Linked DNA regions of Homo sapiens: region 2 is linked to region 1. Evidence: fine-mapped expression QTL. A gene starts in region 1. The other region holds a variant in brackets. All regions are shown on one strand. Distances are between the middles of the regions.

Evidence for each region. PIP is the estimated chance that this variant, and not a neighbour inherited with it, causes the effect. A credible set is the group of variants that fine-mapping cannot tell apart.
Region 2: its variant is the best candidate, but not a certain one, in a credible set for the expression of CTHRC1 in monocytes after LPS (Fairfax 2014, PIP 0.59).

The regions. Positions count from the first base shown.
Region 1 is chr8:103,368,940-103,373,330 of GRCh38, reverse strand. CTHRC1 (collagen triple helix repeat containing 1) reads right to left here and starts at 1,793. Exons shown (of 4, transcript NM_138455.4): 1 at 1,525-1,793. The coding sequence starts at 1,674. RefSeq lists enhancers at 1-47, 545-1,338, 1,339-2,133 and a silencer at 1,790-1,909.
Region 2 is chr8:103,130,103-103,134,493 of GRCh38, reverse strand. It overlaps LINC01181 (long intergenic non-protein coding RNA 1181), which reads right to left. Exons shown (of 6, transcript NR_145429.1): 2 at 1,137-1,901; 3 at 1-97. It overlaps BAALC-AS2 (BAALC antisense RNA 2), which reads left to right. Exons shown (of 2, transcript NR_027071.1): 2 at 1,125-1,531. Among named protein-coding and RNA genes, the nearest start is that of BAALC, 8.4 kb to the left of the region's middle. The variant G/T (reference allele first, on the strand shown) is at 2,544.

The DNA of each region.
Region 1 (4,391 bases):
TGCTTTATAGAATCTGTTGAAACCTTAATGACTGTGGACTTCTTCTGTCAGCAAAACCAAATCCAACCTACAGGATGCACCTGAGCCTGACTGCAAAATCTTTTCCAAGTCTGGCTAGAGTTGTGGGAAACCACAGGTACTGTAAATCCTTGAAGGGGGGAAAATAGCAAGCTTCACAGGAAAAATGGGTATTTTGTGTATCATAACTACAGACTCATAAAATGCAAACTACACATGAACCATACTCATTTGGCACAGTTTTAATAATTTGGACACTTAAAATAGAACTGTTGCCTGAACACATAGTCCCCTTTTGTGGATCAAAATTACACAGCCTACCACCAAAAAGTGCTGTGTGAAATGGCGGGAATTTTTTTCCCAGCACTTTTGAATCCAATACAGAACTAGCTGCCAGGGAACTTGGTATATTAGCTCAGTTTAAAATGGCAGCTTAACAAATTCAAAACTTTCTTTTTAATTAAAAAAAAATGCCCCAACTTATGTCTTGCAATGCCTGTAAATCATGTTTGTCTGCAAGTGAGACTGAAGTTTATAATATGCCAAGGACTACGGTAGCTCTGAAAGGCTCCCTCATACCACAGGCCAGAGAACCTCTCCGCCCTCCACTGGGTTTGTTGATTTTTAGAGGGAAGGATTTTAAGCAAACATACCTTCCCACAGATGAGCCCCTGGAAAGCACTCGGGCCGTTCATTTCCAGTTTCCTGGAAACTGTTTTCTCCCGTAGCTTGACTGTGATGCTCCTACCTGGCGGCCACATATGAAGACCCAGGGTGTGTGTAATGACAGACTGCCCATTTGGTTTAAACAGAAGCAAAACAGGTCCTTAGAGGGTTAGCGCCGGGCCCCTTCATTTCCCTTTCCGGCCTTAAACCTTCTGAACCATTCCTAGCCCCAGCTGTGGTTGTCCAACAAAGTAAATTGCAGCCCATACTCCCTAGGAAGATGACCCAACGTGACTCATAGTCTTCAAGTTACAAAGAGTTGGACGGATGCTTTGTGGGGGTTGTTATTCTCTCTCGCAGGCAGACGTGGCCACCAGCCCCAACAAAGGACACGTTGCACCGCCCTGGCCCAGGCCCAGGTCCATGTGATCAGCGAGGCCAGGGTTTTTCCCAGGTCCACTTCGGACGTACCCAAGCTCCTCATCCTACTCTCACTGCCGCCCTATCCCTCCCACCCTTCCCAAGGGGTCCCCCTGGGGCCAGAAATTATTGGGGGACTCCCTGTACTTCGGGGAGACCCACCGGGCCCATATCGCATGTCCGCTCCACGATGGCCTCCCATTTTGGTCTCCCCTCTGAGTTCCAAGACTCACTGCACGCATAACCAGGTCCTTCTTCACCTGTAAATAAAAAGCATGACACCCCGGCGCAGCAAGACACACGACACACAGCTGTACAGACAGACACCCCCAACAGCCAGACTGACGCCCTGCCCGTGGGGCGCGCGGCCAGGTCCCCTCCACCAGCGCGGCGGTCCCGGCTCGGCTCCCTCGGACTCACCAGGTCCACCACCTCCCTCTGCCGGAGCTGCGCCTTTTGCTTCCCCTTGGGGATCTCAGAGGCGCTCGACGGCGCGGGCAGCTGCAGCAGCAGGAGCAGCAGGAGGCCGCGGAGCCGCTGCGGGGAGGCGGCGGGGCCCTGGGGTCGCATGGCTCCCGGCTGCCGGGCAGCGCGGAGCTGGAGGCGGAGGAGACCGAGGAGAGGAACGTGGTCAGCGTCTGGCTCCGCCGCGCTCCGAGGCCGCCGCAGGCTGCATCAATGCGCCTTTCACCCGCGCGCCTCTCTCCCTCCCTTAATTCCTCCCGCCCCCGCGACACCCGGAGCTTCCATCCCGTAATAGGCCCCGAGCCCCCACCCCGAGCCCGGCGTGGGGGCGGACCGAGAGCCGGGCCCGCCCCCTCCTACTGCAGTCGCTCGGCCTGTCAGGACCCCCGCGGGGCTGCGCAGACCCTCGTGGAGAGCCCGCCTGCAGGGTCTGGGCGGGGTGGCCCGTGGTCAGGAGCCGCAGGTCGGGGATTCCCGCAGGTAACACAGCGCCGCCTAAATGAACATTTTAGAGACACGTGGCTTAACCTGGGTACACGAGCCACCTTCAAGGGTCGTCAATCTATGGCATGGGTCGGCGAGTCTTATTTGTTTTTTGTTTGTTTGTTTGTTTTTGAGACAGAGTCTCGCTCTGTCGCCCAGGCTGGAGTGCAGTGGCGCCATCTAGGCTCACTGCAAGCTCCGCCTCCCGGGTTCACGCCATTCTCCTGCCTCAGCCTCCAGAGCAGCTGGGACTGCAGGCACCCGCCACCACGCCCGGCTAATTTTTTTTTTTTTTTTTTTTTTTTTTTTTTTGAGACGGAGTCTCGCTCTGTCGCCCAGGCTGGAGTGCAGTGGCGCGATCTCGGCTCACTGCAAGCTCCGCTTCCCGGGTTCACGCCATTCTCCTGCCTCAGCCTCCCGAGTAGCTGGGACTACAGGCGCCCGCCATCACGCCCGGCTAATTTTTTGTATTTTTAGTAGAGACGGGGTTTCACCGTGTTAGCCAGGATGGTCTCGATCTCCTGACCTCGTGATCCACCCGCCTCGGCCTCCCAAAGTGCTGGGATTACAGGCGTGAGCCACCGCGCCCGGCCCCGGCTAATTTTTTATATTTTTAGTAGAGACGGGGTTTCACCGTGTTAGCCAGGATAGTCTAGATCTCCTGACCTTGTGATCCGCCCGCCTCGGCCTCCCAAAGTGCTGGGATTACAGGCGTGAGCCACCGCGCCCTGCCTTATTTGTTTTTTGGAGGTGACATTTTTGGAGGCTGGAAGGTGGGGGTGGGGCGGAGGCAGGAAGAAACCATAGGTATCATCAGGTTTTCCAAGAGTCCCATGACCCAAATGATATATAAACGCTGTTTTCATAAGTGCTAACACTTACTAAGCTCTGGCACATTGCAAAACCTTGCACGCGTACTCTGTCCTCTCAGCAATCCTGGCGGGTTGGGAGGGGTAGATGCCTCCTGGGCTACTCTCATAAACGAATGAGGAAACTGAGGCTCAGGGAAGTTAATCAATATCCAGTGGAAATGGTAGAAGTTCACTTTTGAGTACTCTTTGCCTCTGATGGATATTATCTTTTTGTAACCCCCTCTGTCCTCCTTTGGCCTGTCCATTGTAGAAGAAAACATTCTCAGGGCCCAGGCTACCCACCACGTAGGGCCAGGTTGGAGCAGGAGATCTTTTATATATAACTGGCTGGAATCAGGCATAACAGAAGTCTTGCCACACCCATAACAACACGAGGTTGTGACGGATGGTAATACTGTGAAGTCAAATTCAGCTCAGCAGGGGTCTCCCTATAGACCCATGCAGGTTTTCCGGAGTTGGTGAGTCCAGCTGATGGATGTTAAAGAGAGGGAGCAGTCTAGCAGGGAAGCAGGTCGCGGCAGTTCTGCAAATGCCCAGTCCTGGGCTGGTAACTAACTAAAGGTAAATTTCACTTGTTTTTCTAGAAGCAGCAAAAATCCAAATGAACTGTAAAGCCAGGGCTGGTTATATAATTTGCCCCACCCAGTGCAAAATGAAAATGCAGGAGCTTTTGTTAAAAAATTATTCAGAATTGCAAAATGGTGTCAATGGAGCATTAAATCACGTGTGGGGTCCTTCTAAGTGCCTGGCCCTGTGTGACAGCACAGGTCATATGCCCATGAAACTGGCCCTGTATGGGGTTGCAATCCTAGTCTCTGATAAAACAGACTTTAAACCAACAAAGATCAGAAAAGACAAAGAAGGACATTATATAATGGTAAAGGGATCACTGCAACAAGAAGAGCTAACTATCCTAAATATATATATGCACCCAATACAGGAGCACCCAGGTTCATAAAGTAAGTTCTTAGAGACCTACGAAGAGACTTAGACTCCCACACAATAATAGCGGGAGACGTTAACACCCCACTGTCAATATTAGACAGATCAACGAGACAGAAAATTAACAAGGATATTCAGGACTTGAACTCAGCTCTGGACCGAGCAGATCTAATAGACATCTACAGAACTCTCCACCCCAAATCAACAGAATATACATTCTTTTCAGCACCACATCACACTTATTCTAAAATTGACCACATAATTGGAAGTAAAAACATTCCTCAGCAAATGCAAAAGAATGAAAATCATAACAAACAGTCTCTCAGACCACAGTACAATCAAATTAGAACTCAGGATTAAGAAACTCACTCAAAACCACATAACTACATGGAAACTGAGCCACCTGCTCCTGAATAACTACTGGGTAAATAACGAAATTAAGGCAGAAATAAATAAGTTCTTTGAAACCAATGAGAACAAATATGCAACATACCAGAATCTCTGGGACACAGCTAAAGCAGCGTT
Region 2 (4,391 bases), 240 kb after region 1:
TGGCATACAGCATGGAGGAGAACTGTTTTTGGGCTCTTGAAGGTTCTCAGAGATTTTCATATAGCACAAAGCAGTCCAGATGACTGAGATTCTTTCTCTGAGAGAAAAGAAAACACATTCAGAACATTTGTTTGCTCTTTGCTTAATTCTACCACAGTTAACCTGGATCTTCAATCATTAAAGAGACATGATATGTCTTATTCCTTTCCCTTGGCAAAGAGTTGCTTGTCTACCCAGGCAGAGCAGAAAAAAAAGTCTTTTTCATATTATTCTACTGCTTCTTAGGATGGGGCAGGTCATTCGTTGTACTTGCGTGTAAAGTTAGGTCGCACCACAGCAAGGCTCAGGGGAGCAGATGGTGACTTTTATTCATCATTTCCCAAGATGAGGGAAAGGGACTACAATAGTTTACTCTCTCAATGCTATCTTGGTTGTTGCTATTACGACAGATGCTTCCATCAGAGGAGATACAGATATAGAAGAGAGAGGCTGAGACACCAGGAAATCAGGCTGCCTCTCCATCCTGCCCCCATTGCATTAATGTGGAAATGAGATTCAGTTTGCTTTTTGCTGGACTTCAGTCAACAGAAGAGTAATTGCCTTATCCTAAATGAAAAACATGACTTCCTGATTATAGTAAATAGGGAGACGGGGGTAACATGAGCAGGACAATCCGGTCTTTCACTGTAACTACCCAGCAAAACACTGCCTCTTGAGACAGCTGGGAGCCCAGGGGCTGGTGGAAAAGAAGCTGAGGCAGCCCGCAGGGCATTTTGAAGGTGAAAGTTGTCCCTACACACGAAGCTCCTGGTACACTGCCCATTAGGGTGGGCTGATCTGCTTCTGCCTGAATTTGAGGTAATTAAATCAAGGATTAGAATGATATTTACATTTGTTTTCTTAAATGAACCTATGTTCAATTAAGCACAATACCTACTTCACAGTATTGTGAGGAAGCAGAGAGACTGTGTGAACATGTTTCACACAAGTCCTAACACATAGCAACTGCTCAACAGATGGCAGCTATTATTTTAATCTTTAAAAATGTTTTATTCTTGTGATTGTTTTTCCTTGACTAACTGGGACCTTTGGGTCTTCTTTCTGTCCTGCCTTTGACCTTGCAGGGGTGAACTTACGTGCTCGCTGACAATGTCCTTAAAGTCCTGGCATCCTCAGAGCAAGACAAAAAGAGTGGGGGCAAGCGAAGGTAACCCCCAGTGGGGCTCTGGAAGTATGGAGGCCCCTCTCCTTTCCTCCTTCCTTCCACCTCTGGCCAGCGAGGCAGAACTCACAGGCAACACCTGGTTTCTGCACAGATGCAGCTGCATTTTGAACCTAGAGGAAAGCATGGACAGCGACTGGGGGGCTTGGTGGGGGGTGTCGCTCCCTAGAAGGGCACCTTTTCTGATATATGGGTCAGATGGGCCTTGGTGCACACAGGCAGGCTTCCCAGGATGGGGACATTGACAAGGAGGCAACAGTCCTCTCTCCTCCACTCCAGTGACTAATAAAAGCTAACATTTATGTAGCACTTACATGTCCCCGTCTCTGTATAATAAGCACTTTGAACATAGATGATCTCAACCCTCACAACCACACTAGGGGGTAGGTACTATTAAGAGCTCCATTTCCGTAATGAGAACTCTGAGACTTAAGGAGGTTAAATGACTTGTCCAACGTCATCCATAAACACTGAAGCCAGGATTTAAATCCAGGTCTATATGACAGCGAAGTCCACACTTCATCACAATGCCAGTCTCCTATTTTAAAGCTGTTCTCATGGGGCTGGCTATCCAGAAACATCCAAGGCTGCTGCAGCTGCTTACGTCACAGTCCGGGTGGAGAGCCTGTGAGGTCCTCTTGAAGGACGATCCCATTGCAGGAAAGCCACATGTGCTGTCCTACAGTTCACGGGAGGAAAATCAGAAATGATTAAAGCCTTGAGAAAAAAATTCCAATTCCAAGAAGCATCTATGCTATGAGTAATCCTATTCAGAATCGAGAAAAATAGAACAGTTACTGAAAACAGGGTAAAAAAATACTCCCTCCACAGTTGAGAACTCCCTCATAAACAGTCATATGACCAAATTCAGGAACAGGCCATGAATAGAAAAATGATGATTTGAATTTGTTTATTATCTATGTTGCACAGAGTTTTAGCCTGGCAGCTCTGAGGAGAAATAAGTTAGGAAAAATGATGTGTGGGCTGGTAGAATGTTTGAATTATCTGCATTGTTGATTTTGTCTCCTGATACATTCTTTCACAAGGTTGAATTAACTGATGTGCATTTCAAGTTCTCAGCTACCAGCAAGCAACTTAATGAATCTCAGAGAACTGCTGCTATCACAGAGGCCAGAAAGCAGGTAGTTTTACTCTTATCAAAGCATCTCAAAAAAGAACAGAATTTTAGGATTTTTAAAAATATATTTAAAAAGCACCCTACTGAATAAGCCCTACATTAGAAAGGACAATGTACCTCAAGAATGCATGCAGATATTCTAGGGGGGAATAGTGGTGATTAGAGAATTAAAGAAAAGTAGGT[G/T]GTAGTGGTGGTGGGGAATAGGTTAAAGCTAAATTATTCAAATATTTCTAAACATATCTTGACAAAGGTTTGGGTGGCCTCTATTTTCTTAACAGACTGAGAATCCTTCCGGGAGGAAGGTTTTAGGACAGCAAGCTTGCTCACAAAGCAAGGCCTTAGCCATCAAACAGAGGGAAGGTTCTTAGTGCAGCCTGGTGCAGGACGTTCGTATGTGCTTCCTGCCCCGCTCATTCCTCGGCTCCCCAAATTCCCTTCCTCCGTGAACCTGTGGCCAAATCCTATAGAAAGGAGGAGGCTATAAGTGAAACTTGGAAAATAATTTCACTCAAAGCTCTTTGATGTTCAGGGATAGATTCCACTCATTTGGCACTCTTCTGACCAGAAGCAACATGTACAAAAGTGGGAGAGAGATGTGCTTTGGCACCTCTAGAGCTCCATGTCCTAGCAGGAGACTAGTACCCAGAAGTGGTAGCATCCAGGGAATTAACAAGGGGCCCTAGTGGGAAAAGCAAGTCTGGTGCAGAAAACATGGTAACAAGTTTGGATTTTGTTTTAGGGGCAATGAAAAGTATTTTCATTAAAAGAGAGAATAATTTGATTTTCTGTTTTTGAAATATCACTTGTGGCTGGGAGCGATGACTCATGCCTATAATCCCAGCACTTTGGGAGACTGAGGTGGGTGGATCACTTGAGGTCAGGAGTTCAAGACCAATCTAGCTAACATGGTGAAACCCTGTCTGTACTAAAAATACAAAAACAAAAACAAAAAATTGCTGGGCATGGTGACATGCACCTGTAATCCCAGTTGCCCGGGAGGCTGAGGCAGGAGAATCACTTGAACCCAGGAGGTGGAAGCTGCAGTGAGCTGAGATCACAACACTGCACTGCAGCCTGGGTGACAAAGTGAGACTGTCTCAAAAAAAAAAAAAAAAGAGATAGAGAAGAAAAGAAATAAAAGATCACTCGTATGGAGAACTGATTTGGGGAGCCCAGAGAAAAAGCAGGGAAATCAGTTTGGAGATTGTTACAATAGTCAAGGCAAGAGATAATAGTGATTCATACACTAAGGCAGTGGCAGTGATGATGGAGAAAATGGATAGATTCAAGACACATTCTGGAGGTAGAGTAAGAAGCCTTGCTGATATTTTAAATGTCAGAAGTAAGGAAGAGGGAGAAAACAAGAATGACTTTCCAGTTTCTGCTTGTATATCTAGGTAGGTGAGGAAGACTTAATGAGGAATAAATTTGGAGAAAAAAAAATCAGGATGTCTGTTTTGGATATTTTGAGTTAAACATGCCTGGGAGACAAGTAGGCAATTAGATAGAGAAGATGAAGAATCAAAAGAAGATCAGTGTTGGAGCCATGAACAAAGTGTGCAATTTCCTAAGGAGAAAGTGGTAGACATAGAGAGAGAGAAAGAGGATGGCCTGAGATCACGCTTTGAGGAAACCCCTCTTTAGAGGACTGGCAGAGGAAAATGAACTTGAGAAGTAAGCTGGGGAGGAGAAATCAAAGAAGCAGAAAACAAACCCAAAAAGGTATAGTGTCACAAAAGCCCAGAGAAGAGCACCTGTCAGGAAGAAAGCATTCAATTTTGACTAAGGCTCCTGAGTGTTTGTGTGAGTCAAGGATGAAAAACAGCCCATTGTTGGGAACATGAACATCACTGGTGAATTTGGTAAAAGTGGCAGTGGAGGGGTAGCTTCACAGCCAGAGCAAGTGGGTTAATGAGTAGATGGGAACACATGCATGTAATTTTACTTGTTTCTCAAGCCAAACACGCACACACACAAACACTAAAGTGATTATCTTTAACATAAACCCATGAGGATGGTAAGACGGGGAGA